Homo sapiens: one gene and its partners. The protein of the gene in region 7 purifies or fractionates together with the protein of the main gene of each other region. This does not show direct contact. Each region holds a gene or a part of one and is shown on either strand. Other genes may lie near its edges. The genes, in order: TRIM25, TRIP12, RIGI, WWP1, TRIM40, MYCBP2 and SERINC5.

Region 1 (4,215 bases), on a different chromosome or scaffold from region 7:
TGGGATCTCACTATGTTGCTCAGGCTGGTCTTGAACTCCTGGCCTCAATCCTTCTCCCATCTTAGCCTCCTGAGTAGCTGGAACTACAGGTGTGCTACCATGGGGCCTGGCTATAAAATCAGAATTTTTTTTTTTTTTTGAGTTGGAGTCTTGTTCTGTCGCCAGGCTGGAGTGCAGTGGTGCGGTCTCGGCTCACTGCAACCTCCACCTCCCGAGTTCAAGCGATTCTCCTGCCTCAACCTCCCGAGCAGCTGGGACTACAGGCCTGCGCCACCATGCCCAGCTAATTTTTGTATTTTTAGTAGAGACTGAGTTTCACCATGTTGGCCAGGCTGGTCTCGAATTCCTGCCCTTGTGATCCACCCGCCTCGGCCTCCCAAAGTGCTGGGATTACAAGCGTGAGCCACCACGCCCGGCCCATATATATATATTTTTTAATCTTTTCTTTTAGAGACAGGTTTTCACTCAGTCACCCAGGCTGGACTACAGTAGCATGATCATAGCTCACTATAACCTTAAACCCTGGACTCAGGTGATCCTCCTGCCTCAGCCTCCTGAGTAGCTAGGACTACAAGCACGCACCACCACACCCAGCTAATATTTTAAAACATTTTTTGTAGAGACGGGATCTCACTATGTTGTCCAGGCTGGTCTTGAACTCCCAACCTCAAGGGATCCTCCCACTTCAGCCTCCTGAAGTGCTGGGATTACAGGCGTGAGCCAGGAGCCTGGCCTAAACTCTGCTGTTTAATCCTAACAACAGGCCTTCCTCTGCCAACACCTACCCCCCTGTCCTGACTTGCTGAGTCCTATAACAGGTCTGCTTTTTGAGCCCTGCTACTGCTGCTCATCACTGTTGGCAGAGCCAGTCTCAGCTGGGCAATGCCCTTAGCCTCGGGGGCTGGGTTGCCTTGGCCACTGGTGGGGTCGGACTTGAGACTCTGGTGCCTCCCATGTGGAAGACCCAAGTCTCTAGTCTGTGAAGGGATCCTCAGGATTTCAAAAAGTCCTTTGCCTTTGATTAGGGGATTATTGCTGCTACCAAAGTTTTTGGGTCACTTTCCTTTGGTCTGGAGTCGTGTGGGCACCATTCATGATGAGGGTACTGCCGCATGTGTTTGATTAATGGTGTATCAAATCTTTCAAAATATAGGGCTCAGGGTGTAGTGCTATGAGCAGCTCTTGAAAGTGAAGCAGTTGGCAGCCTTGGGGTGTTCTGAGGTCTCTTCTTGCTCTGAGGCCAGCAAGGCCGGATGTATGTAGGCCTGGTCTTTGGCCCACACCTTATCTTGGCCACTGTTAGAGGCCAGGTCGAAGGGCAGTGTCACAGAGGTCAAGTTTGAAACATCATGAGCAGCTTGGGCTTTTCGGATTGAGTTAGTGTGGCCTTGGTCCCTGCCTCCAACCCCTACATGTGACTGTCACTGGGTTGTTCAAATCTAGATTCAAGATCAGGTTCCGCCCAGAATATCTTGGGTGGAGTTGAAGAGTCTGGGAAGTGGAAGAGAGAGCCAGAGTATGTTGAGCCTGCTAGTTACGGGAAGGAAATTTTTTTTTTCTAGAAATCTCCAGCATGCTCAGTTTGGGCATGTGTCTATGATTTTAATATCGGGATCTTAGCTGTGCCAGTTACTAGTAGTGTAGCTGGGGCAAGTCACTTAATTGTTCTGTGCCTCAGTGTCCTTGTCTGTAAAGGCTGGGTAATTCCTACCTCATAGTGTTGTTCTTAGCTTTAAGTAAGTTAATACAGGTAAAGCACTAGAACAGTGCCTGGCATACAGTAAGTGCATAATAAATACTGGCTGCTGCTGTTATGGTGGTGGTGATTTTCCTTCCCATTTCTGTGCAGTATTCATCTGAGCAGGGAGGTAGGAGACTCAGATATTGATTATGAAAATTAATTGAAATCAGATGAGGATATTAGCTTCCTTCATATACAGTTTGCCTTTGTTTCTGGAGGTGGCTAGGACTGAGCAGATTTGCACCTGGGCTTCAGCCCCTGTGAGCTACTTCATCTTTTTTTTTTTTTTTTTGAGACAGGGTCTCACTTTGTCACCCAGGCTGGAGTGCAGTGATGCCATCTCAGCTCACTGCAGGCTCAACCTCCCGGAATCAAGCGATCCTCCTGCCTCAGCCCCCTAAGTAGCTGGGACTACAGGTGTGCACCACCACACCTGGCTAATTTTTGTATTTTTAGTAGAGACAGGGTTTTGCCATGTTGCCCAAGCTGGTCTCGAACTCCTGAGAGCAAATGATCCACCTGCCTGGGCCTCCTAAAGTGCTAGGATTACAGGCATGAGCCACTGCGCCTGGCTGGCTGATTCATCTTATTCCCAGCCCTTGGTGGTCCCAGTCTGCAGTGAGCCTTGGACTCTGATTTCTGTCTCCCTGCCCTGTGAGGCTGACAAAGGCTCCCAGCCTTGTTCTGGGATTGGCAGATGCCTCTGGAGAGAACATCCTAGATATCAGGCTTATCTCTCTGGGCCCCCTTCCCCCTTCTCCTGGACCTTGACTTCTTAATCCTCTGCTTGATTGGCTCTCCAGCATCTTTTAGCAGATCTCCCCGCTGCCCCATTATTTGGACTGCTTTCCTGGCTGTTTGCAGTGGGAGGATTGGTCTGAGTGGCCCCACCTGCCATTACCGAAGCAGCTGTCCCAGCTCGTTCTGTTCCTGTGTGAGCTTGGCCACCTTTCTGTCCTCCTTGCTTGAGTTTCATTGGCTGTAAAATGGGTAATTAGAGAAAAACTCATAATAATATAAGCTGGCATTTAGTATGTTTTTCCTAAGATCCAGGCATTGGGCTGAGTACTTACATTGTTTCAATTAATCCTCCCAATAGCCCTGTGAGCTGGGGACAGTTGTATCTATTTTGTGTCCAAGAAAACTGAGGTGAAGGACACAGTTGCACAGCTGGGAGTTGGGACTGGAACCCTGGTCTGTACTGTCCTCTGAAAAGGATGAAGGGAAGTAGTAAGTATTAGAATGCTTCAAAAAGCTCCAAGCAGGCAAGACTCGGGTGACAGGACTTGGGGTGGCAAGACTTGGGTGGAGTGGAAGAGGAAGGAATCTATCCTGTGGGATAGTTCCAGGGATGGCTTCTGGTGGGGCTGGGCTGAAGAGGTGCATTCTCAACCTCATTTGTTTTCCCTGCAGGCCACCCTGAGGCACAAACTAACTGTCATGTACAGTCAGATCAACGGGGCGTCGAGAGCACTGGATGATGTGAGAAACAGGCAGCAGGATGTGCGGGTGAGTGGCAGGGCTCTCCAAGGCCAGCCCTGCCCTGTGGCTTCGCTCAGCTTCCACGCGGGATGGGCGTGGCTCTGACCATGACAAGGCTGGTGTTGGGTGCACTCACAGTGTCAGGATGAAACATCAACCTTGCAAAGCATGCAGACAGCTGTGTGTCTGAGAGAGATCCTTTGCAAACCCAAACCAAAAATTACCTATAAGCCCAACTGTGGGGGAAATCATTATAAATTAGGATTAAAAAGTAGTAATTCAGAAAAATGGTTATGATATAAAGTGGGAGAAAAAGAGGAAGCAAAAGTATATAGCTCATAGGGTTGCATCTATTTACAAAAAGGAAGTATATTAGTTTCATAGGGCTACTGTGACAAATTGCCAGAAACTTGGTGGCTTACAACAACAGAAATGTATTCTGGCAGAGTTCTGGAGGCCAGAAGTCCAAAATCAAGATGTTGGCGTGGCCACACTCCCGAAGTCTCTAGGGGAGAACCCTTCTTTGCTTCTTACAGTTTCTGGTGGCTCAGGCATTCCTTGGCTTTTGACTGCATCACTCTGATCTCTGCCTCTGTCTTCACATACCTGTCTCTTCTTCCCTTAGTGTCTTCCATCTCCAATAAGAACCCTTGTCATTGGATTTAGGGAGCACCTAGGTAATCTATGATGATCGAATCTCAAGATCTTTAATTGCATCTGCAAAGACCTCTTTCCTAAGTAAGATTACAGTCACAGGTTCTGGTATATGGACATGTCTTTTGGGGGCCCAGCATTCAACCCATTACAGAGAGCATGGAAAGAAACTGAAAGGGAATATTATAGAAGGATCATAGTGGAAGTGTTGGAGTGGTAAATTAGGAATGGTTTTGTTCCCCCTGTTTTTCAGATTTTCGATACGTTTAAATTGCTTTTAAATGGAAAGATCAGATTTTTACCCTTTTTCAGAGCTGCAGCACCAGTTTTATTGCAGC
Region 2 (4,215 bases), on a different chromosome or scaffold from region 7:
GGCTGGGCATGGTGGCTCAGGCCTGTAATCCCAGCACTTTGGAAGGCTGAGGCGGGCAGATCACCTGAAGTCGGGAGTTCGAGACCAGCCTGGTCAATATGGCGAAACCCTGTCTCTTAAATACAAAAATTAGCCAAGCATGGTGGCATGCGCCTGTAATCCCAGCTACTTGGGAGGCTGAGGCACGAGAATTGCCCGAACCTGGGAGGTAGAGGTTGCGGTGAGCCAACTGCGCCACTACACACACTCCAGCCTGGGTAATACAGCAAGACTCTGTCTCAGAAAAAAAAAAAAAAAAGTGTATCCTAAAGCACCATTTTTTTTAAAAGAATATGTAACTGCATATGTAAAATACCTGGTACTTATTTTATGCTACACAAACGCTGGTTCCATTCTCTTGTTTCAACAGCTTAGGCTACGATGAGAGATCAGAACTGGGATAGTGGCAGTGAAAACGGAAAAGTGATTTAATAGTGACAACAGAACACAGATACTGTGCAAGTGAATGAAATAATGGTGAAATGAGTTTTAAAATACTAAATTAGTTTGTGACTATGTGCTGAGCAGGCTTAATGGAATTATCTGGATTGGTTTTATCAAACCAGCAGCAAAATGACACTGCCAAAACTCTTGGTGTTTCCTGATTGAAACACCAAGGAGAAAATCCCACTGATTAGCCACTGGTAGAGTTGGGTTTTCTTTTAAAAATCAAGTTAACAGACTATATAAAGAAAAGAAAGCTGATCTCTACAAAGGACCAAGGCCATGACACTCAAGTACAATCTGCTATTGCCTGGCCCTAGAACCCTCCTACACATAAGAGATGAGTTCTTCAAGTGAGGCAGACTGGAAGGCAGAAGGGGAAGTGAATCCTAAGCAGCTTGCTGTAAACTCAACCTGGCTCACTGGCTGTGAATATTACATAGCAGGACTGACAGACACAAAACACAGGGAGGAAAGGCAGCATAAAAGCTGACATATGTAACTCCAATTATCAATAAAGCATTGGAAGGACAAATAGTTGGTTGTCCTTTTAACTTGGACCTTTTTTTCCTTCTCACTTCAAGATACTGATCTAGCCTATCTTAATCCTTTAAACTTAAAACATTTTATACAGATGTTCTGCATATTTAAAATACCAAAACAGAACAAAGTTCAATCTAAAAGTAAAATATGTTACTTCACAATAACCTATCATACAGGTTAAACATAAAATTTTTTATATAGTACCTACTATTAATAGTATTGTCATTTCAGGTAATATGTGAATCAACCAAAAGTAGTTTTAGACTGCAGTGTTAAATTAAACAGAGCTAATAGTTCTGATTCAATTTTAAGTTAGGCTGATTCAATATGAGCTATACTTTGACAAGAATGCTAGTAGACACTATATACAATCTTTTTAAACCAAGAAAACATTATAGCCCTACCCAAATGTAGATCTAAAATCCATCAGAGAAGAAAAGATGCTTAAAAGCAAGCTTCCTAATTAGGTATTATAAAATTAAAATGCTTTTAAAAATTGTAGAGATAAGTGCTTTATTATCCTATTTGTCCTTTATAGGTTTCTGAAATAGAAATAAGGAAAGAAGCCTGGGCACAGTGGCTCACACTTATAATCCCAACACTTTGGGAGGCTGGGACAGGTGGATCACTTGTCCCAGTTCAAGACCAGCCTGACCAACATGGTGAAACTCCCTCTCTACTAAAAATACAAAAATTAGCTGGGTGTGATGGCGCACACTTGTAATCTCAGCTACTCAGGAGAGGCTGAGACAGGAGAATTGCTTGAACCCAGGAGGTGGAGGTTGCAGTGAGCCAAGATCGTACCACTCACACCACTACTCCATCCTGGGCAACAGAGTGAGACTCTGTCTCAAAAAAAAAAAAGAAGGGAGGAAAGAAAAGAAAGACACTAGCATTCCCCAGATGAGCAGCTGGTTCCCTGAAGAAGTCTTTTGGTAAAGAGAGAGGGAGAAGAGTTCCTGGATATCTCCAAAACTGACTCATGAAGGAATGCACATAACGCTATGTTTCTTCCATCTACTTTCTGTTTCTTTGCTTGAATGTATTCTCAAAACACAAATTCTTTCTACTCCACTGTAAACTTTTAGAGAGCAATATTCTTACTCACTTAGGACACAGAGTAGTGTATATAAGAGTAGTGAAACATAAGTAGTATTCATCTTTAGACAAAACTCCTTAAAAGACTGTGAGATATTACATATGAAAAAGTTTAATTTACATTGAGGTATATTTATAGTAATAACTTAATTCACTGTATCTACACATCAAGAATATCTCATATAAAAAAATATATTTGGCCAGGCATGGTAGCTCACACCTGTAATCCCCACACTTTGGGAGGCCGAGGTGAGCAGATCACTTGAGGTCAGAAGTTTGAGACCAACGTGGCCAACACAGTGAAACCCCATCTCTACTAAAAACACAAAAATTACCCAGGCATGGTGTGCACACTTGTAATCCCAGTTACTCTGGAGGCCAAGGCAAGAGGATTGCTTAAGCCCAGGAGGCGGAGGTTGCAGTGAGCCGAGACTGCGCCACTGCACTCCAGCCTAGGCGACAGAGTGAGACTCCATCTAAAAAAACATATATATATTTGATCTCTGATCATGGCAACTCATAACTAAAAAGAACTCCTAACTAAATGATAATTTTGTATGTGGTATAGAAGAAAATCCAACTTTATGTCCCATCCTGATATTAGGAAATCAGTGAAGTAGGAGATGCCGCGAGGACCAATAAAGACACAGACACTAAAATGTGATGGTTTCGTAATAATAGGAAGGTAGTATTCCTTACCTGTCTCAACAAAACTAAATGTAGTAGCACTTACTACATGCTGTTATGTACTTAATTACACAGACAGTAATACATCTAAGATTATCTAAGACTGGGGGGAAAAAACCCTTAACTTTAAAGCATAATTGCTTTTGACAAACCAAGAGAAACTTTCTTTAATTAAAGAAAAATACCTTTTTGTAAACTTACTTGCTAATTTGGCCTGTAATCCAGAAGGTCCAGGTTTTGATGTCTCTGACTTAGAAGACCCTGGAAGAGACAGTTTTGTTTTAGGAAGGCTAACTTTAGGGCTGAAACGAGCAGCCCAATCAAATTTTGAAGAGCCACCAGTTTTACTCTGTTCCTTTTCCCTGCTACTTCTTCTGGGGCTGGGACTGGACGCTGAACGGGAACGCCTGGCCTTGTTCTGATCTTTTCCTTGTTTCACTCTGGCACCTGGTGGTACAGTGGAGGAGGCCGAGGCTACAGCAGAAGACGAGGAGGAAGTAGAGGCAGCAGAAGAAGAATCAGTGATGGTGCTACACCCAGCTTTGGCTGAGGTGGCTGATTTTGAAGCCAGCTTGGTAGGTTTCGCAGATCTCTCTTCTGCACCAGTTGATTCAGACCCGGAGCCACTCTTTACACAAGAACTCTCTGTCCTTTTTCTTTTCTGACTCCGTGAACCGCCAGTGGCCCCACTCTTCCTGGTATGAGCCTTGCTTGTTGATGGTGATTGTGCAGATTTCAGTTGTTGCTCCTGGTCTAAATGTCTCTTCTTTGACTTACTATGTGGCTTATTTGTTTCTGAGGGAGATTCAGTATGCTGAAGTGCTTTTGGTTTTTTTGCAGAGCTAGGAGAATTGGTCCTGTTGTAGTCTGGACTAGCACTGCGCTTCACTCCTCGAGAATTGTCTTTCTTAGGCACCTGCCCCGTTTTTTGTCTTTCTGAAGTATTGGCTCTGTCTGGATCCTCTGGTTGTGGAACTATCACAGCAGATGATGAACTGCAGCTTCTAAGAGGTTAGATAAGAAAACAGTTAATATCAGCCTGTCATAATTACAACTGTCATATATAATGCTTTCAAAAAATAAAGTATGAATATGTTCCTACTAAGTCCAGTATTAAACATAGGTTTTCAGAAGGTTCAAATCTGTAAAACGAAATAAAAGAACAAAACAAAAGCAGATGTGACTTTGGATACTAAAATATCTGATTAAAAGATAAGGGTGTTCTTTAGCCCAAAGATTACTGACACTAACACTCGTAATCACAAAACAAGAATTAAGATTACAAGAAAAACAACACTTAATTGTTCGGAACCAGAGGAAGCCAGAATATTGATGCCCTATTCACAAGCACAACTGCTTTGTCAAAGCTTAGAAGAAATAAGCATTAACATACGCACTTTCAAA
Region 3 (4,215 bases), on a different chromosome or scaffold from region 7:
AAAGGGTTTTTAAGCAGGACAGGGACATGATAAAATGTATTCATGAAGACTAACTAGTTCATGAGAGGTTGAATGGAAGAGAGAGCAGAGGTAGGCAAAATCAGCTAGAAGGCTGTTAGAACAATTATAATAGAAATTAAACTGTGAAAGAAAAGGGGAGAGAAAAGCAAAATAAGTGTGAGAGGAGACACTCCATGAGGTGTCTTACAGACGTCACATTTAACATCCCTAAAACTCAAAACTCAAAACCTTGTACCTGCCAAGGCTGCTTCTAGTCCTGGTACCAGGACCACCCACTGGCATTCATAGAGGTGCCTAAGCCAGATGCCTGGGGGGAAATCAGCCCCTCCTGCCCCTTTCTCATCCCCACCCAAATCCGTTTAGCCATTCAATCATAACACTCACAGTTGGAAGCATCTCACATGTGTCTCCTTCCTTCTCCAATCCATCTCTACTGCCTCTCTTTGGTCCTTCTCATTCACTGGTATCTTTATTACGTCACTAATCAGTTTTAATCTTCACTTTTTTCCCCATTGTTTTTAGGATAAAATTCAAATCCAGGCCCTTCACTGTCTTCCCCTGGCCCATCTCTAGTCGCACTCCTTTAATGCTGGGAAATGTGCTGGGTGATTGTCCCTAGATATAAATCTGAGCCAGTAGAGGAATGGTGGTTTCATTCAGGTGAACAGGAAAGTCAGGAGGGAAAGCTGATTTAGAAGGTAGAGAAAGCAATGAACTGACTTAAGTATGGTTATTTTTCAGGTGCATGTGTCTGGATGAACTTACTTTGGATTTAAAAGGAAAAAAAGGAAGAAAGAAAGAATAGAGGAGGACATATAAGGCTCCTAAATAACCTATAATCAAGGAAGACAACCTCTGGATATGGTCTTGACATTGTCTGAACTAAGGAGAACACAAAAAGACGATAGTGAACAATAAATGGCTATTCCCCAGTAGAGAGAACACAAAATATGAGATTTATCTCACCGAGGTCTTTGCAGATTCTCTTTGCCAGACTCTCTGTGTCCCTCATCAGCTGAGCTATGATGTATTTAAATTTGTCGCTAATCCGTGATTCCACTTTCCTGAAAACTAGAGACGTCAAAAAAAAAAGAAAAAGAAAAAAAGAGTGAGTATATTTTCAGGAAGGACAGATTGTAGTTCAAAGTAGGTATCTCTAAAACCTTTCTCTGCCTTTGATACTTCCTCTGAAAAACCTAAGGTTCCAGGCTAACTGGCAGGTGGTCCAGATGATACAACAAATGCTCAAAATGCAATGGCTCCCTGTTGCTTCTTGTACTGATTCTAACACCTGTCTTTCATGGTGTAGGTCTAACTAGCTTCTTTTTTTTTTTTTTTTTTTTTTTGATTGAGACCAAGTCTCACTGTGTCACCCAGGCTGGAGTACAGTGGCGCGATCTCGGCTCACTGCAACCTCCGTCTCCCAGGTTCAAGTGATTCTTCTGCCTCAGCCTCCCAAGTAGCTGGGACAACAGGCGCACACCACCATGCCCAGCTAATTTTTGTATTTTTAGTAGAGACGGGGCTTCACCATATTGGCCAGGCTGGTCTCGAACTCCTGAGCTGGTGACCCACCCGCCTTGGCCTCCCAAAGTGCTGGGATTACAAGCGTGATCCACCGCACCCGGCCTAACCAGCTTCTTACTGTGGCTGTCCTGTTACCTCCTCTCTGATGAGGCGGGCATCTCTCATGTCTCTGCAAGTGCCACAATCTAACCCTGTCTCTGTGCTTTGATATTCTCCCTCCCCACACAGCTCCCAGCAGTATTCACACTGATCCTACCATTTATCAATATATTATTTCAGCCTAATTATTAATTGCCTGCAATGTGCCATGCTTTGATTATAGACAGTTGAAAGAACACACTTCATGCTCCATACAGGGCTGTGATCTTAAGGGAGAGAAATATACATGGCTAACTAACCGTAGCAGTTCTCTAACAGAAGTACATGTAAAGTGTAGCCGGGTGTGGTGGCTCACACCTGTAATCCTAACACTTTGGGAGGCCGAGGAGGGTGGATCACTTGAGGTCAGGAATTCAAGACCAGCCTGGCCAACATGGTGAAACCCTGTCTGTACTAAAAATACAAAAAATTAGCCAGGCGTGATGGCACACGCTTGTAATTCCAGCTACTCAGGAGACTGAGGCAGGAGAATCACTTGAACCCAGGAGGTGGAGGTTTGCAGTGAGCCGAGATCGCACCACTGCACTCCAGCCTGGGCAACAGCACGAGACTCTGTCTCAAAAAAAAAAAAAAAAAAAAGAAGTAGTACACGCAAAGTGTCACAAAACACAGGGAAAGTAACACCTAATTCTTCCAGGGAAGTCAGAGTTGTAGAATAAATACAGGAAGAAGAAAGAAGAAAGCAAGAGTAGTCATGTATATTCCATCACAACTTGGCAAAGAAAAAGAAAAAAAAAAAAGAGCAGTGATGTACAAAGGAAGCACAGACAAAAGGTGGGAGAGAGAAAGCACACGGCATGATTGAGGAGCCCAGAGGAATGCAACATGGTTGGGTTTATGAATGTTTGGAGGTGATGAAGCTCAGAGGGCAGGAGGAACCGGATTGTAAAGAAATTCATATGTGACACTGAAAAGTTGGGATCAGGTACATCAAAATCCTTACTTACAAGCAGCCTTCAAAAAGGAACTTATCTACACCACTCCCTATTACATGTCTATTTGTTCTACCTCAGAAATACAGTCACATACTACTCAGAGAGCAAGGGTGAAGTCATATATATTTTCTGTATCCCTCTCTTCCTTTCAGGGTTAGTGTAATAATAACATCAATAAACAACTGTTAGTCATATTAAAAAATCATATCTGATCTTTGGAGGAGTGACATCATGAATTCAGATCATTCCATTTCAACTAAAATGATCAAATACATATTCAAACAGTGATGACCACACAGGCACAGAGCATGGGAAAAGGCTGAGTGAGCCCAGCTCTTGGCTATCTGATGCCTAAATTCTCTCATCACCTCTTTTGCATTGCTAGTACATTTATAAGAGGTTTTTGGAAGCAAAGAGGAAGAATGTTTGCTCTCTACAGGCCACTTCTGAGGTTCATCCATTGCTTGGGATGAGAGCTCAGTTAGAGAGGCTAAAAAATGTGACTGTTACTCAAGTTCAAGGTTAAATATTTTCTACTAAACAGAGAGAGGGTCAAAGTTCAGTATTCGTCTAGATGGCTCTGAACTAGAGGTAGTAGAGAGTAACAGAATCTCAAAGGCTTGTTATTGGATCCAACTTACACTTCTGGGGCTTATAAACAACTTGCTCCAGTTCCTCCAGATTGTGTTTGACTGTTGCTATCACTGACGCATCAAGAGAAGCACACAGCTTGCAGATATAATCCAAGGCTTCATCTGTGTTTTTGGCATCCCCAACACCAACCGAGGCAGTCAGCCCAATGACCTGTAAGGAGCATTCAAAATCATTAGATGTCTGAGAAATGGTACAATGTTTCCACAACCCCTCATATAACTCTTTCCTGCTGGGGTAGGGCGTTTTTTTGTTTTTACTAACACACAGTGTATGGCACATGGAGGCACATAATGCATATTTACTAAGTGAACAAATGAATAAAGGAAACAAAATTCATAATGAGTTGTACAATATGGACTTGGGACCTGAGAAGGACATCTTCAGTGTGGCCATAAGAGTAAGAAAATAGGAGTTAGGAAGATTATAGCTCTTCTGAAGCATTCGTCTGACTTTGGAGATACCTGGGGCAGTGGGCCTGAAGATCCTCCAAGTTTCTGATCTAGATAATTAAACATGATCATATTGTACGGGTGTTGTTTACTAGTGTTGTGGCATTCATCAAATATCATCAAAGTAAAGATGGATAGTGATGGAATCGTTCCCTTTTTAAGGTTGTTCACAAGAATCTGTGGAGTTAAAATGATGATGTCATTGTTCTCAACAATCTGTTCCACTGGGACATTCTCAGCTGTTGCTCCAGAAATGCCTGTAACTCTATACCTGGGAAATGACAGAAATTCCATATTACTAACCACGATGTGGATAAGGAACCACAAAGATGAAATGCTAGATCAGAACATCAACTGATTAAATTCTCCCTGAGTCCAAAAGAAGAATAGCTGTAGGCAAGTCCTTAGCACAGAGCCTGACACATAGTAAGAGATCAATAAATCCAAGCTAGTTGTAATTTATAGTACTA
Region 4 (4,215 bases), on a different chromosome or scaffold from region 7:
TAAACTCTTTGTAATTAAGTTCAATGAGTGCCTTTCAGTTCTTATCTTCCTAGAATTTTTCAGTGGCTTTTGACCTTGTTAACCATTTCTTCCAGAGGCATTTACCAGCCAGAGCTTTTGCCCAATTGCTCAGTCATTCTAAATCATTTAATGTAGCACAAATTCACTTATTTAACAAATATTTATTGAGTGCCTGCTATACGGTAGGCATAGTTTTGAGCACGAAGAATATAGAAATAGACAAAATAAAATCTCCCTTCAGTCTAGTGGAGAGACAACAGATAATAACACTGTGTGTCACATAATTTAAGTGCTAGAAAAATAATAAAGGTTACATCATGCTGATTAGAAGAAGCCTACTCAAAAGAGTTCATACTCCATCTATAGTAAGTTCTACAGCAGGGAAAATTAATCTATAGTAGAAAAAATTAGAATATTGATTGCCTCAGAATCACAACTTTCTAGGGTGATATTAATGTTCTGTATCTCGATAAAGATTTGAGTTACACAGACATACGCATTTGCCAAAATTCATCATAATGGTACATTCAAGACTCGTGTTTTTCTTTCTTTGTCATCTTTATCTAAAAAAATTTTAAAACATATTGAATTCCAGTTAATGATTTGCAAGCTGAAGTGTTGAGGGGCAAAACATATTGATGTCTGCAACTCATTGAAATGCACTAAAAATCAGATGGATGAAGAGATGAAGAGATGAGATAAGGCAAGCACAATAAAGGGTCAATTGTAAAATCTAGTGGGAAGTGTATGGGTTTTCACTGCAAAATTATAATTTTCTGTACATTTGTAAATTTTCAACATAAAATGTTGGGGAAAATAAAGCAGGATACGGAAATGTGGGGAAACTGGCTTGATTTGGACAGGAGACTCAAAAAACACCTCTGGAATGAGGTAACATTTTAACAAAACCTGAGTATATTTGAGAATACATAAAAGAGCACATGCAAAGTTCTTTAGGCAAAATCGTGCTTGGCATAACACTCAAATGTTATCTCCAGGCTAGAATATTCTTCTTCAGTTCTGGAACTGTACATATAACTGCCTCCTTGGTATACGGCATGAGGTACATATATCAACTGGATGCCCTACAAAATACAGAACACTTTCTCATCACTCTCCTACCCTAAGTCCAACATTCTATCATTATTTCAGTCAAATATGCCATGACCCAGTTGCCTAATCGCTATTTAGGGGCGGGGGTGGGGGGATGGGGGGGGGATTCAGAATGTATTTTTAATCTCTCTGAAAAGTACTCAATATTAATACACTGTCCAATTTTTCACTGATGCATACTTTAGATTTTGATACACAGAATTTTTTTATTTCATCTACATATCTCTATATAAAGTGAATTAAAAAATGTGGAGAGTAAAGGGTTAACAAAAGAACTTGAAGTAGCAGTTCTCAACTTGGCTGTACATTACAATCAACAGGATTGAGGCACCCATAGTCCTATCCTGTTGTTAGCTAAATGACTCAGTAAGTTACCAAACAAAAGAAAACACAGGAACTAAGGTAAGATTTTTAAGCAAAGAGGGAAGATGATGTGGAGTTGAAAACTGCTGACTCAAAGGGTTACACAGCCTGGTGCTGTGTATGCCAGAAGAATCCACCTTGGTTCCACTCTTTTTCTATTCTATCTCCCCACAACTTATCAAGACCCATCTTATGTCAACCTAAAATATTAGCATTTACCTCACTTCAGGCTCTCTTAATTTCTCCCCTGGATTAGTGGCTTTTAAACTTTTTTTGACCACAGTTTACACAGTAAGAAGTGTGTTTTATATAAATATCTCTGTGTATACCAGATTGCTATTTATCTACTGATTTTACTTACATACACACACATACACACACACACACACACACAGAAAAACAAACTTTCAGGAAACAATGCTTATTCTTACTACATTTAACATCTTCCAATATTTCCTATTCTCGCCTATATTTCTTTATTTCATTATGTGTTCAAATGCTGGTCATAACCTATTAACGGGTTGCACTCTACAATTTGAAAAACACTAATATAGATTACTGCAAAATTCTAATACAAAGATCATAAGTGGTGACAACAAGTCTGCTGAAGCATTTATCTGGTCTCAACAGAATTAGGTTTATGTACTTACTGTTTTGAACTGGAATGCCGGCTTCCCTCATTTATAAAACAGCCTGGCTGCTATCCCAACTCCTTAACTCCTCAGCTGTCTATACCACTGCAAAAATGATCTTAATAAAAGCAAAGAGGATTATGCCACTCCCCTGCTTTACATTCTTTAATGCTTATTCGTGGTTTTCAGAAAAAACTTCCAAACCCTTCGAAATCACACAAAATTCTTCACAGGGCTGTTTTCTCTTCAGCATTATATATCTTGCTGCCTCAAATGCTGAACTCAAACTATAACAAAATAATAATTCCTGGGTTCAGCATACTCATTTTCATGGGTGCTAGGAATCTGAATGTGCAGTCGGCTCTACTGAAAATGAAATTTTCACCACTCGTGCCTCCACTATTTGCTAACTCCTCCTCTTCTTTCAGAATCCACTGACGTGTCATAGCTTTCGAAAGTATTCTTTGACGTCAACGGCGCAGGTAACTCCTCCCATTCCTTCTCTGCATGTATTCCTTGTCATGGCATCCTAAACTTACCTCTGGCATAGCTTTAATTGTACTGTATGCTGGCTGATTGTCTACTTCTCTTCCCCTCCCCCACCACTTAGACGATGAGGTTCTTGACAGTAAGAACAGCTTCTTATATGTCTTTGCCACAGTGACTGGCACATGAGAGACTAGGATAATTGACTAATTTACCAAACATGGGACACAGGACAAGAGATTTTTGAGAGGGAAAGGAAAGCTAATATAGGGTCTGAAACATTTCCAGGAAACAGAAGAGGGAAAAGTAGTTGAAAATAAGCTCAAAGAAAAGTCTGGCCTGAACATATAGATTTAATAGTTAAAATGATGGAGAGCTGGCCAGGCATGGTGGCTCACACCTGTAATCCCAGCACTTTGGGAAGCAAGGCGGGTGGATCATGAGGTCAGGAGTTCGAGACCAGCCTGACCAACATGGAAAAACCCCGTCTCTACTAAAAATACAAAAATTAGCTGGGCATAGTGGCGGGTGCCTCTAATCCCAGCCACTTGGGAGGCTAAGGCAGCAGACTCACTTGAACCTGGGAGGCGGAAGTTGCAGTGAGCCAAGATCGTGCCATTGCACTCTAGCCTGGCCAACAAGAATGAAACTCTGCTCCAAAATAATAATAATGGAGAGTGCTAGATCTACTGGGGTAAGCACACAAAGGAAGACCAAAGGCTGAAACCGTAATTAAGCAGTGGACAACATCAGACGAGCCAGTAAAGGGCACTGAGAAAAAAAAAAACAATTCCAAAAAAAAAACCAACGTACACTAACATAGTGACTGAGGTAACAAAATGAAGACAATAGTGTAGAGACATCTAGAAGTGCAGTTTCAATAGCTACAACAGTTGACATTCTGATCACTGTAAACTGTGTTGGAAAGCACGTGTCCATATATACTTTCTGACTGTACTGTATATACTGTACACGTTTACAACTGTGAATCACTAAATAAGCTTCTTGAAGGCAGAGACAATTAATCATTAATTAATATTAGTATTATCAGTGCCAAAGGTCAAAGAAATTACCGAATGGAATACACATATAGAATACTCTTTAAAGAAAATCATGGGAAGTTGAGTAATTATAATGAGAAACTTAAAAGAGATTAAGAATTACTAACCAGCAATGAAAAACTGCATTTTTAATAGAGCCAATCAGCAAGGTTTGTGACTCCCCAGCACTCAATATTAGCTGAGGAAAAGAAGAGCTATTTGCTCTCCAGTATGAGGTCTGGAAAACAGATCACCAAGGATGCCAGAGAACTGAGGATATTATATGGAGTATCATGGTCACTCTTACGAAAAGTAGAAATAAACCAAGAATCAAATTAAGAGGGTCTTGCTAATTAACATCAGGTTTTTTCTTTTCCCTTCGTACTACATATATGTCAACCAGATGAGCAATTGTTCTTAGTTTCAAAAAGTACTTGTTTTGTAGCAAGTAAATAAATAGTATGATTCAGATCCCAACTTAGATTTCAAAGTTCTGAACAATGAAAACATTTTATGCACACATTCAATAATCGTATGTTAACAGAGTTGCTACTTAAATG
Region 5 (4,215 bases), on a different chromosome or scaffold from region 7:
CCTTACCATATATTTTAATGTCAGGTATTTTGATAGAATCCTCACAATACTCTTATTTTTCAGAATTCGTGCAGATATTTGTATATCTTTATTTTGCCAATTAGCTTTGGAATTATTTTTATCAACCTTTCCCCTGACCCTAATCCAGTTAGTATTTGACTGGACAATTGACAATATTTTCACATGGCATCCTTCTATCCAATAGTGAAGGCTGAACTTCCAAAGCTGAGGTAGCTTTGAGATACTTGACTTTTGGAGAACATGTTATGATACAGAATGAGAAAGTGGGGAGTCCAGATTAAAAGTGACTACAGAAAGGTAGAGAAATAATTGAAAAAGCCAGAGGCAAAGTTCTATTTGGTTCTAACATCATTCCCTCCAGGTGCAATGTCCACAGGAGAGTGGGGAGGGATTCCTCACCTGCCGATGAAGCAGCATAAGATGGAGAAATTTATTTCCTCACTAAATGATTTTTTCAGGTCTGTCCTTTGTGTTAGATGTCATGCTAGGCATTGTAGAAAGTACAAAGATGATTCATAATTCTTGTTTCAAATCTGTCTTTAAATAATGACAAGAAAGCTAAAACAAATAAATAACGATGACACTTGTTCATTAAGTAAAAACTTAGTAAGTTCCTGCTGTGTGTGAGAAACTGCAGCATGTGCTAGGAATCAATGAAGACAGATGCCATTCCTTCTGCCAGGAGTTTGCAGTGTAGTAAGGGAGACACAAATAAGTAATCAAAGAACTGTAACTTTTTTTTCTTTTTTTTTTTTTTTTTTTTTTGAGATGGAGTCTCATTCTGTCACCCAAGCTGGAGAGCAGTGGCATGATCTCGGCTCACTGCAACCTCCGTCTCCCAGGTTCAAGCAATTCTTTGCCTCAGCCTCCCGAGTAGCTGGGATTACAGGCACCCACCACCAGGCCTAGCTAATTTTTGTATTTTTAGTAGAAACAGGGTTTCACCATCTTGGCCAGGCTGGTCTTGAACTCCTGACCTCATGATCCATCTGCGCTGGCCTCCCAAAAGAACTGTAACTTTTTATTAGTTAGGAAGAAAATAAACAAGGGTCTGGGATGAACAGTAATGGGTGGCCCATGTCCATTTGGTCAGTGAGGGCCTCATAGAGGAAGTGACCTTGAAGCTGAGGGCTGGCAGAAGAGAAATCAACCTGCAAAGACAGGGGGTAGGGAGTGCATACAGATGCCCACACCTGAGAAGTCTTGTTATATTTGAAGAATTTATCATTAGAGTTTGAATCGACAGGACTTACTGAGAGATTAGAAGTGGGTTCTTTGTAAGAAAAAAACAACCCCATCAAAAAGTGGGCAAAGGATATGAACAGACGCTTCTCAAAAGAAGACATTTATGCAACCAACAGACATATGAAAAAATGCTCATCATCACTGGTCTTTAGAGAAATGCAAATCAAAACCACAATGAGATACCATCTCTGCCAGTTAGAATGGCAATCATTAAAAAGTCAGTAAACAACAGATTCTGGAGACGAAGTGGAGAAATAGGAACGCTTTTACACTGTTGGTGGGAGTGTAAATTAGTTCAACCATTGTGGAAGACAGTGTGGTGATTCCTCAAGGATCTAAAACCAGAAATACCATTTGACCCAGCAATCCCATTACTGGGTATATACCCAAAGGATTATAAATCATTCTACTATAAAGACACATGCACACGTATGTTTATTGTGGCATGGTTCACAATAGCAAAGACTTGGAACCAACCCAAATGCCCATCAACGATAGACTGGATAAAGAAAATATGGCACATATACACCATGGAATACTATGCAGCCATAAAAACAGATGAGTTCACGTCCTTTACAGGGACGTGGATGAAGATGGAAACCATCATTCTCAGCAAACTAACACAAGATCAGAAAACCAAACACCACATGTTCTCACTCGTAAGTGAGAGTTGAACAATGAGAACACGTGGACACAGGGAGGGGAATATCACACACCAGGGCCTGTGAGGGGATGGGGGGTAGGGGAGGGATAGCATTAGGAGAAATACCTAACGTGGATGACGGTTTGATGGGTGCAGCAAACCACCATGGCACGTGTATACCTATGTAACAAACCTGCATGTTCTGTCCATGTGCCCCAGAACTTAAAGTATATATATTTTAAAAAGTGGGTTGAAGGAAGGAGGAAGGTCAAAGATGACTTCATGAGTTTCTGGTTTGAGAAACTGAATAGATGATGTGAAAGATAATAACTTGGTAGAACAGGTTTGAATGCAACACCAAGAGTTTCATTTAAGACAAGTTGAGTCCAAGTTGAGACACATCAAAATAGGATCTTACATACGCAGCTGGATCACAAATTTAGATCTCCAGAGTCTTATTCCTAGAACCTAGAACAAAGATCCATCCAGGCAAAGACAATATTTAAATCCAAGAAAAGCGGGCACGGTGGCTCACACCTGTAGTCCCAGCACTTTGGGAGGCCAAAGTGGGAGGATCGCTTGAGCCCAGGAGTTCAAGACCAGCTTAGGCAACACAGTGAGATACTATCTCTAGAACAACAACAGCAACAACAAAGTGAAATTAACAGGATTTAAAAAAAAGAACGTGACAATTTGGGGCTGGGTGCAGTGGCTCACGCCTGTGGTCCCAGCTACTTGGAAGGTTGAGGTGGGAGGATTGCTTGAGCCCAAGAGAGTGAGGCTGGAGTGAGCTGTGATTGTGCCACTGCACTGCAGCCAGGAAGACAGAGCAAGACCCTGTCTCAAACAAAGAAACAAACAACCAAGAAACCAAGGAAACTGATGTAATTGCCTCAAAAGAGGCTAGACAGAAAAAGAAGTTTTGGGGTAAGGTTCTGGGAAAGGCCGTCATTTAGATGTAGGCAGAGGAGGACCCAGCAAAGGAGACAGGATGAGTTGCCAGAAAGGCAGGAGAAAAACAAGGGGAATGGTGCCCCAGCTGCTAAGAGAGAAGGGTATTTTAAGAGATTATAATAGATTGCATTGAACAATGCTAACACTTCAGTAAGATGGTGGCAGAGGCATGAGAGCTGAGTTGGGAGGAGGCACACTTCTTCCATAGTAATAACAGGGAACAAGAGAAGGTGTCTGCAAGCCTACATAGTTTTGCAGTTTTGGAAATCCAGGTTTTGTTCTGGTTTTTATTTTCTCATAATATTTGAGGAAGGAACATCAGCAGTATGGGTGGGATCAGGATGGATGTGAAAGGTTTGAAAAGAAACAAGATGGTGTGATGCAGTGTGGGAGAGCGCTTACAAGAGAAACTATGTAGGGTTGGCAGACAGTATGTAGCACCAATTTGAGGTCTGAAATGTTTAACATGTTTCAGGAGGCTGCCTGAGGACAGACAGCAAACAAGAAGGTGATGGTACATTTTACCATGGATAAGGAGTTGTCTGAAAAGTAACACAGAGAGGGAGGGTAAGGGAGTTGAGTATATTTCTGAAGAAGTGATTATAATGGTGGACCTTATGTGTACTCATGGATATTGACAGCGTAATTTTGAAATTAAGGAGGGTTTTTTTTTACTGATTTTTTCACCATATCTCTATTTATTTGAATTAAACTTTGTAGTTAAGTATTGTAAATTTTGTTCTTTTAAAAGAATCATATAATCCCTGACTGTACTCTAAAAAGACCGAAAAATTTATAAAATCTACAAATTCTTATTTGTATACCTGTTTCCTCACTGACCAGTCAATGTCAGTGTCAATCACTTTAATGTATTTTGCTGGTTTAGTAAGTGTGTGACAGTGATGTACGTTGTTTTACTTTGCTTGATTATGAATGCTAGTAGTGGTGAGGCTTTTATCCATGAAGACTCGCTGTCTGCATTTTCCCCTAGAATCAGGGCATAAATTCTACATGATTGCATCAAAATAGTTTATCTTTTGGATAATGAGCTCCATTAGTTGTGTTTGTTTAACCTACATTTTTTTATTCTGTTATTTCTTCTTAATTATATTTTTGGGCAACTTTTTAGAAATTTGCATTTAAATTGGCTCTATTCTTTTTTATAATATAATCTCCATGTCTTAAATACACAGAAATTTGTTTAATATGAGTGTGCTGCTCTGTTTTATTTTTAAAGGTTTATTAATTCCTGGCTTACTTGGAATTTCATATAGTATGTTGTGTGAAGGATGACTCCACGTTAATTTTCCTTTATTCTGGTATCCAGTTGTTCCCAAAATATTTATATAACA
Region 6 (4,184 bases), on a different chromosome or scaffold from region 7:
ACAAAAGTTTTGCTAATCTGATGTATGATGAGTCAACAATCAATAATTTGGCAATTTCATGACTCGAGTGTCAAAAAGATGTACCTAAACACACCGTTGTCTATAGAAAATGAATAAAAAATTAGTGATTTTATTACTTTATATGAACTTCAAAAAGGGGCTGGGTGCAATGGCTCACGCCTGTAATCCTAGCACTTTGGGAGGCCAAAGCAGTGGGGATTGCTTGAGTCTAGGAGTTTGAGACCAGCCTCGGCAACATGGCAAAACCCCATCTCTACAAAAATTACAAAATTAGCTGGGCATGGTGCTGGTGCATGCCTGTAGTCCCAACTACTCAGGGGGCTGAGGCTGGAGGATCGCTTGAGCCCAGTTGGAGGCTGCAGTGAGCTGAGATCACGCCGCTGTACTCCAGCCTGGGTGACAGTGTAAGACCCTGTCTCATAAATAAATAAATAAAGTTAAAAATGCTGCTAGTTAAAATAGAAGTTAATTTCCTAAATGCTTTCTTCTGTCTTTGGTATGAATATATTTACCTACGAATATATATATATATATTTATGATCTTCTGCTTAGGGTTTAAGATTCCAACATTGCACTTCATTACTATTCTTATTTTCTCTAACAGTTTTGAAAATTATGAATGTGTTGTGTTAGTAAATTTCTTTCTGAGGAAAACTGGACTTTTAGACCTTAAAGGTGTTCAAATTTTGTTTTTTAAACAATACCTCCCACAGTGGTAGACTTTATCACTGTATAAAAATGTACAGTGGTTTTATTGACATGTACATTCCAATATGTTTACAGCTGCAAGATAATGAGGCACACTCAGTATTGCACTTCATTAAAATTTCAGGCTCAAACTTAACCTAGAAGTTTAAATGAAATTGCATTTGTAATTTAGTAATTCTTATACAGGACAAACATTGATATGTTTATATACAGTGTGATACTTATTACATTTATATGCTGTCCTAACACAATGTTTTTTTTTTTTTTAAATAACAGTCTAGGAAATAAACCAGAATATTCCTCTTTTTATCCCCACCCGTGATGCAATTGTACAGGATTACAAAAAGGCAGTATACAATAAACAATGATTATTTTTCTTTTTTGCTTGAAAGCCAGCATCGTTCTTAGTCCATGGGCATGGCGATTCTTTTATATCAATTATCTATAAATGTCCAATGCTTCACAGGCCAATGACGGTAATGGCCACATGCAAACACCTCACAAGTTTGATGTCATTTGTTCAAAAGAAGATAAACCAAAATAATGGGGAAACTTTTCATAGCAAGAATTATGTACATGGTATTTGGTATCCTTCTTGCACTGTGAATGGTTCATTTTCATGGATGTAAAAATGGTCCCGTCCTTATCCTGAGCAGAGTTTAAACTTCACCGCATCCTCTTGGGGGATGAAGGCAATTTTTCTCTCTGTAGACAAAGGATCTGCGTGTTCTAAAAAGTGTGGGCATTTCTGCACACTCCACATCCCAGAGCAAACTCTTCCCCAGTGGGTGGATGAACAACATGGAGTGGACATTCAGTTCCTTCTAACTGCTTGCCTTTGGGACCTGTATAAATTTGAAGGAGGCAAAGGAAAATAATGTTTTAAGAATACACACATATAAACCTCACAGAAATATAAATCACTGATAGGTTATTCAAAGAAATAACATGACTATGGTTATACAAATATAACATTTAGAAATTTTTCTTCTGATCACAAAAGTAAAAAATGTTCACTATAAAAAATTCAACACAGATATGTACAATGGAAGAAGTGATGGGGTCCCTTACTCACTATATCCTGCCTAGAGAGGATCACTTCGAGCTACAGATCTTTTTCTATTAATAAATGCATCAGATATATCATTTTAAAACAGAGTAATGAACAAAAAAGGTCACAAAACCCCTCAATTTAGTCTGGCAGAACATTATTTTTCTGAATAGAAAACAGGGAGATTTTTGTGTAGAATGTTTTTCTATAAGTAAAAACATTTAAGTTTAAAGAAGCCATGTTTTCCCTTTTATTTTTACTGATGAAAAAGCCCACACTGGTAAAATGGGAAGGCCAATGATTCCTGTAATTTTTAAAAGTACCTGAAGGATATTAGCAGGAAAATGAAAGTTATCAGGTTAAAAACATGAACAATGTTATAAAATACAATGTGGAAAAAACACTTTGGGGAAGATATGAATTTGTTGATAATAATCAAAGTAGGCCTATCAAATGTACCAAAAACAGTATTTTAAAAAAGAAAATTATTATATTAATGTGCTTCACGTCATGGGTTTCATATCATTTAGAAAAGATTTTTAGTTCCTTTAGAAACCAGGAGGCTTACTTTGTCAGAAAAACACGCTAGGCTTATACTTGAAAGCAGAGTCCCTATTTAATAGTAGATGAAGGAATAGGAACTCTGCATTAGTTTTCTACAGCTAGTTTTCAAAATAATAAATCTAAATTCTGATTGTGCTTGAGAGAAAAATATCACGAGATTGGATGGAATGAGCTTACACTGATCAATGAGGAATGACGTCTCATTTACTTTACCTTTTCTAGGTTTAAAAACATTTCTGACATAAGAGAAGGAAACCATGATGGATAAAAGGCTAGCATTTATAAAGCTCTTAGACTGCACAGTATAATACCCAATAAATGTTGGCTATTACTACTATTACTGAACAACCACAAACTGAGGCCTGATCTAGAGGAATAAAAAGTAAGTTCTGTACAAGAGTAAGACCAAGACATTAGAGTGTCAAACTGAAGACAGCTAATCTCAGAGAAGTCAACTTCAGGTTAGAGCTAACAGGCATGAGAGTGGCAATGAGTGCCACCTCAGACAAATGCAGGCACAGACCTCAGGATGGGTCAGCATGGGAGGATGCCAGAGGTTTGCTAGAAAGTTAATTATTCCTGTTAGAAAGTAGTTCAGTAGCTCCTGCTCCAAATCACACTGCAGATTGGTGCCCACCCCACCAGTGGGTGGGGGAGAGTGCGCAGGATGGGGACACTCAATGGCAGATCTAGTTCAGATACACAACATATCAATGGTGGTGACACAAACTGCAGCCCTTGGGTTTTTTCAAGGAAAAAATGAGTCATTTACTCAACAAATATTTACCGCATGCCTAATATATGAAGGGCATTCTTAGGTACTTGGGATTAAAGATGAAAAGTGCATGGCTCCCATCTTCAAGGTGTTCACAATCCAACATGGTGGTGAGAAATAAAAATAGTGAAAACACACCTGCAAACATCTGAGTGCTTACTACTGAGGCACTGTTCTAGTATATCAGCTACTTAACCATTTAACAGTCATAGGAGGCAGAAACGATTATCCTCATTTTGTAGATATGAAACTGAAGTAAAATTATTTTTTCTGATTCTTAGATACCTCATCTTTAAAATAGACACAGCAATACCTAACTCATGGGGTGCTGTGAAGATTAAGTATCCTGGCACGAGAAGGTAGTCAATAAATATTTTAGAAAGAAATGGATAGAGGGATTATGCTATGGTCTGGATGTTTTTGTGCTCCTCCAAATTTATATACTGACGTGTTAATGAAAGGAGTTAGTTTGCCTTAGGTAGATAGCAAGGGAAGGGTCCCCAGAGAGCCCCAGGTCCACAGGTCAGTGCCTCATCCCCATATAACATAAAAAGCAGTTGGGGAAAAAAAGTCAAGCTGCAGGCACCGATGAGGGAACTAGCACAGGGCATTGTGCCTAAAGACATGCCCACGGCTGCACAGACAGAAAAACCTTCAATCAGATAAAGGACAAGACCTGGGATAGAAATGCCTTTGTCCTTTGTATAGTCAGGGGGCTCTCTCCTTTTGTGGGCATAGGCACAGTGGGCTCCAGTGGGTTCCTGGGCCAGGGTCCCGGGCCAAGCTGAGTCACGCTGCGGGCCAAGACAGCCCACAGACTAAGCACATTCCTTCCCCTTTCCAGTCCATAAAAACCCTGGGCCCCAGCCTCACGGGAGCATCCTGTTTGGGCCCCCCTCTCTGCTGGCAGAGAGCTTTCTTCTTTTGCTTATTAAACTTTCGCTCTAACCTCACCTTTGTATCTGTGCTCCTTAATCTTCTTGGAGGTAGGACAAAGAACTCCTGGCATTATCTCAGACAATGAGAGACTGTTATATCTTGGTGCACTGCTGAGACTACAACATT
Region 7 (4,215 bases):
ACTAAAAATACAAAAAAATTAGCCGGGCGTGGTGATGGGTGCCTGTAGTCCCAGCTACTCGGGAGGCTGAGGCGGGAGAATGGTGTGAACCTGGGAGGCGGAGCTTGCAGTGAGCCGAGATCGCACCACTGCACTCCAGCCTGGGCAACACAGCGAGACTCTGTCTCCAAAAAAAAAAAGAAACCATCAAGTTTGAAGGTAGAAGACTATCTACATATGAATGTAAACCCAGAAAACATTAACAGCTACAATAAGTGGTGGGTGCATGTTAAAAAAAACTTTATCAGTCACCTCATAATTATGCAAAAAGAGTGGGATCAAATACAGCACTTCCAACAAAATCCCAACTTTGCAAAGTAAAATTATAAATATCGGCCGGGCACAGTGGCTCAGTCCTGTAATACCAGCACTTTGGGAGGCTGAGGCGGGCAGATCACCTGAGATCAGGAGTTCAAGACCAGCCTAGCCAACATGGGGAAACCCCATCTCTACTAAAAACACAAAATTAGCTGGGCGTGGTGGCGGGCACCTGTAATCCCAGCTACTCAGGAGACTGAGGCAGGAGAACTGCTTGAACCTGGGAGGCGGAGGTTGCAGTGAGCCAAGATCACGCCATTGCACTCCAGCCTCGGCAACAAGAGCGAAAACTCTGTCTCAAAAATAAAAAAAAATAAAATAATAAATATTAAATATAAGTAACTGACTATAAAGCATCAAAATGTGGTTCTCTCTGGGTAATGATATGTGTGATTTCCCTCTGTTTCACAAATACTTCCCACATTGTTCAAAAAAGTATCATCATGGAAATAATGAATTTTTGTAATTGGATCCCTTCCAGTGGAAGCACCATGTAATATAATGAGGACCTAACATTTCCAATCACTATAAACAAAGAGCAATAGGGAACAAGAGTTCTGTAACCAAAAGAGCTCAACAGGGGGTTCAGCTAGGTCACAATAAGTGCTCTGCTTATAAGAAGAGAGGAAACATCCTTGCAGTAGCCAGGATTTAATTCCAATGCATCAGATGACCCAGTACTAAGTGGTGCAATCAAGTCCACGAAGCAGAAATTCTGTGAGGACTCTCAAAACAAGAGAAAGATCATTACTGAGGAAACATTAATTGAGCTGGGACCTCAAAGTAGAGATTTGGGTTTTACAGTGAAGAAGGAAGGACATTTTGGGGGAAACATCATCATTATTATTATTTTTTGAAACGGAGTCTCGCTGTCTTGCCCAAGCTGGAGTGAAGTGCCATGATCTTGGCTCACAGCAACTTCAGCCTCCCAGGTTCAAGCGACTCTCCTGCCTCAGCCTCCTGAGTAGCTGGGATTACAGGCATATGCCATCACGCCCAGTTAATTTTTATATTTTTAGTAGAGACAGGGTTTCGCCATGTTGGCCAGGCTGGTCTCGAACTCCGCCCACCTGAGCCTCCCAAAGTGCTGGGATTATAGGCGTGAGCCACCATGCCCGGCCTGGAATCATCATTATTGTATGTGGTGTGTAATTTATTTTTTAAATAAGTCTTCTTCATGGACTCTGTGTATGTGGGTGTGTGTTTTAAGCTGCATTATAGGGGCATCAGTTGCCCTGATAAGACCCCTATTCCAGCAAACATTTAATCAAAGGCCACACAGCTGGCCTAATTGCATTTACAGCGACCAACCCTTTGTAACTTTTCACTTTCCTGACTCTTGAGCCACCGCTCACTCCCCTCCTTACTCCCTTATGCTCACTTTAAAAGGCCTAGTCACCTCTGCACAAAATCGAATGGAGCTCAGCTCTTTCCCCTACAGTCAATAGTTACTGAATAAACGTGTTTTTACTGCTTTAACTAATGTCCCGCTTTGTTTATCTTTGATGATGGATAGTTCCTGGTGGCATTCAAGGCTTTGTTAATTAACATAACGGACATCAGAAATGAGTTTTACTAGCCTGGGCAGCAAAGCCAGACCCAGTCTCTACAAAAATTTTTAAAAACTGGCCAGGCATGGTAGAACGCACCTGTAGTCCCAGCTACTTGGGAGGCTGAAGCAGAAAGATTGCTTGACCCCAGGAGTTGGAGGCTGCAGTGAGCTATGATTGAGCCACTGCAATCCAGCCTGGGCAAGAGCTAGATCCCATCTTTAAATACATACATGCATACATACATACATACATACATACATACATACATACATACATACATGGGTTTTCATTGAGGAAAATCTTGGTGATCTAGAAATAGGATCTGGCTGGAAATACCTGGGCCTGGGCATTCCTGCCTTGCATAAACTGGCTATAAAGATAGAGTGAATAGGGCCGGCGCAGTAGCTCATGCCTGTAATCCCAGCACTTTGGGAGGCAGAGGCGGGCGGGTCACCTGAGGTCAGGAGTTCGAGACCAGCCTGGCCAAGATGACAAAACCCCATCTCTACTGAAAATGCAAAAATTAGCCAGATGTAGTGGCAAGTGCCTGTAATCCCAGCTATTCAGGAGGCTGAGGCAGGAGAATCGCTTGGACCCGGGAGGCGGAGGTTGCAGGGAGCCAAGATTGCGCCACTGCACTCCAGCCTGGGTGACAGAATGAGACGCTGTCTCAAAAAAAAAAAAAAAAAGACAGAGTGAACCTTTACTCAGAATGGCAACCACAGGCTTGATCCTCCTGGTGCAATAGTCTTGGCTGCCCACCAACCAGACATTAGCTGAGTCTTGCCTACTAGAATGTTGGCGCATCTGCCTCGGGTGAACTTTTCAGGCAAGAAGCCTATTAATTTCAGCATTATTATTGTCATAAATGCCTATACTTGCCTGCAGCAAGCCCTCCCAATCCCTATTGTCAAACTGCCTTGGAAAGGTTGTCTAGATTTTCCAAGCACACACCTCACTTCCGCTCTGACAGTGAGCACTGTCATTTTCTTTTCTTTTCCTTTTTTTTTTTTTTTTTTTTTTGAGACAGCGTCTCACTCTGTTGCTCAGGCTAGGGTGCAGTGCTCAATATCAGCTCACTGCAACCTGCACCTTCCAAGTTCAAGTGATTCTGGTGCCTCAGCCTCCCAAGTAGCTGGGAATACAGGTCGTGCACCATCACGCCTGGCTAATTTTTGTTTTAGTAGAGACAGGGTTTCACCATGTTGCCCAGGCTGGTCTCGAACTCCTGGCCTCAAGCGATCCACCTGCCTCGGCCTCCCAAAGTGCTGGGATTACAGGCAAGAGCCACCATGCCCAGCCTGCACTGTCATTTTCTGTAGCTAACTTCCCCCAACACTCCCACCTCCACATAGCCCTTAAGTTAAAGGAGAACAAGGAAGCCCTGTGTTCATTACCGTGTCTCTAGGGGCCTAGCACAGAACTTTGAACCCATAAAGTGTTGAGTGACCACTCCCCTGTAATCTCTACTTTCTTAGCATCCATTAGCCAACAGCCTAAGCAAAACCAAAGTGAATATCAGAGTAGATACAAAAATAAAATAAGCTGATCTGGATATTATCCTGATGCAGATGGGTAATGGCCACTAATAAGATTTGGGGGGTTCCTCACACTCTGCCAAATCCTATATTACAGACTTTACACTTATCATCACATGTAATTTTCCCAATAACCCTAAGAAGTACCCATTCAATAGTTGAGGTAAAATGAGGTCATAGAGGGTAAGTAACTCATCCAGTCACACCAGTCCTCATTGTCCAGATTTCCAAATTGAAACCCAGGCCTGAGTCCAAAGCCCAGGCTCTTTTATGGGTTACATATTGTTCAGGATGGTCCGCAGTTAAAGAAAGTCACCAAAATGTCTCTCTCCGACCTCAAACTTCTCCCGACCTAAATACCTAATTGGTGACTTGCCATTTCCATTAAATTTATAATAGGCATCTCTAATGTAACGAAGCCAAGAAACTTGGGTTTTCCTCACCAAATGTCCTCTTCCTAACAATTTCCTACTTCACCTCAGTAATGCGATCATCATCTACCCAGTGGCTCAGGCCAGAAACCGAGCCTGTCTCATTCCCACATCCCACTTCTAATCCTTGCTCAAATCCAGTTCTACCTCTGAAATATACCCAAAGCCAATGATGTCCCACTGTACTCACTCCTACAGCCATAGCCTAAATTAAGGTACCACGCTGTCTCCTCCTGGGACTACAGCAACAGCAGATTGCCAGGATTCGAGCTCCATCAGGAAAGGATTTTTGTTCACTGCCGAAGCCTAGAACACTGCTTGCCCCTAAGAGGCAAA

The links.
Region 1: the proteins of SERINC5 (region 7) and TRIM25 purify together in Homo sapiens (affinity purification with mass spectrometry, with the first as the bait; one large-scale study listed by BioGRID). This does not show direct contact.
Region 2: the proteins of SERINC5 (region 7) and TRIP12 purify together in Homo sapiens (affinity purification with mass spectrometry, with the first as the bait; one large-scale study listed by BioGRID). This does not show direct contact.
Region 3: the proteins of SERINC5 (region 7) and RIGI purify together in Homo sapiens (affinity purification with western blotting, with the first as the bait; one study listed by BioGRID). This does not show direct contact.
Region 4: the proteins of SERINC5 (region 7) and WWP1 purify together in Homo sapiens (affinity purification with mass spectrometry, with the first as the bait; one large-scale study listed by BioGRID). This does not show direct contact.
Region 5: the proteins of SERINC5 (region 7) and TRIM40 purify together in Homo sapiens (affinity purification with western blotting, with the first as the bait; one study listed by BioGRID). This does not show direct contact.
Region 6: the proteins of SERINC5 (region 7) and MYCBP2 purify together in Homo sapiens (affinity purification with mass spectrometry, with the first as the bait; one large-scale study listed by BioGRID). This does not show direct contact.

What each region holds. Positions count from the first base shown.
Region 1 is NC_000017.11:56,907,503-56,911,717, reverse strand, and holds part of TRIM25 (E3 ubiquitin/ISG15 ligase TRIM25), read left to right. Parts: intron 1-3,154; coding exon 3,155-3,250; intron 3,251-4,215.
Region 2 is NC_000002.12:229,855,760-229,859,974, forward strand, and holds part of TRIP12 (E3 ubiquitin-protein ligase TRIP12), read right to left. Parts: intron 3,816-4,215; coding exon 3,013-3,815; intron 1-3,012. UniProt on the Homo sapiens protein: E3 ubiquitin-protein ligase involved in ubiquitin fusion degradation (UFD) pathway and regulation of DNA repair.
Region 3 is NC_000009.12:32,484,188-32,488,402, forward strand, and holds part of RIGI (antiviral innate immune response receptor RIG-I), read right to left. Parts: intron 4,017-4,215; coding exon 3,758-4,016; intron 3,447-3,757; coding exon 3,284-3,446; intron 1,093-3,283; coding exon 988-1,092; intron 957-987; exon of another isoform or gene 1-956.
Region 4 is NC_000008.11:86,411,904-86,416,118, reverse strand, and holds part of WWP1 (NEDD4-like E3 ubiquitin-protein ligase WWP1), read right to left. Parts: intron 1-4,215. UniProt on the Homo sapiens protein: E3 ubiquitin-protein ligase which accepts ubiquitin from an E2 ubiquitin-conjugating enzyme in the form of a thioester and then directly transfers the ubiquitin to targeted substrates.
Region 5 is NC_000006.12:30,138,576-30,142,790, forward strand, and holds part of TRIM40 (E3 ubiquitin ligase TRIM40), read left to right. Parts: intron 1-4,215. UniProt on the Homo sapiens protein: E3 ubiquitin-protein ligase that plays a role in the limitation of the innate immune response. Mediates inhibition of the RLR signaling pathway by ubiquitinating RIGI and IFIH1 receptors, leading to their proteasomal degradation.
Region 6 is NC_000013.11:77,043,920-77,048,103, forward strand, and holds the end of MYCBP2 (E3 ubiquitin-protein ligase MYCBP2), read right to left. Parts: intron 1,575-4,184; coding exon 1,459-1,574; 3' UTR 738-1,458; downstream 1-737. UniProt on the Homo sapiens protein: Atypical E3 ubiquitin-protein ligase which specifically mediates ubiquitination of threonine and serine residues on target proteins, instead of ubiquitinating lysine residues.
Region 7 is NC_000005.10:80,249,148-80,253,362, forward strand, and holds part of SERINC5 (serine incorporator 5), read right to left. Parts: intron 1-4,215.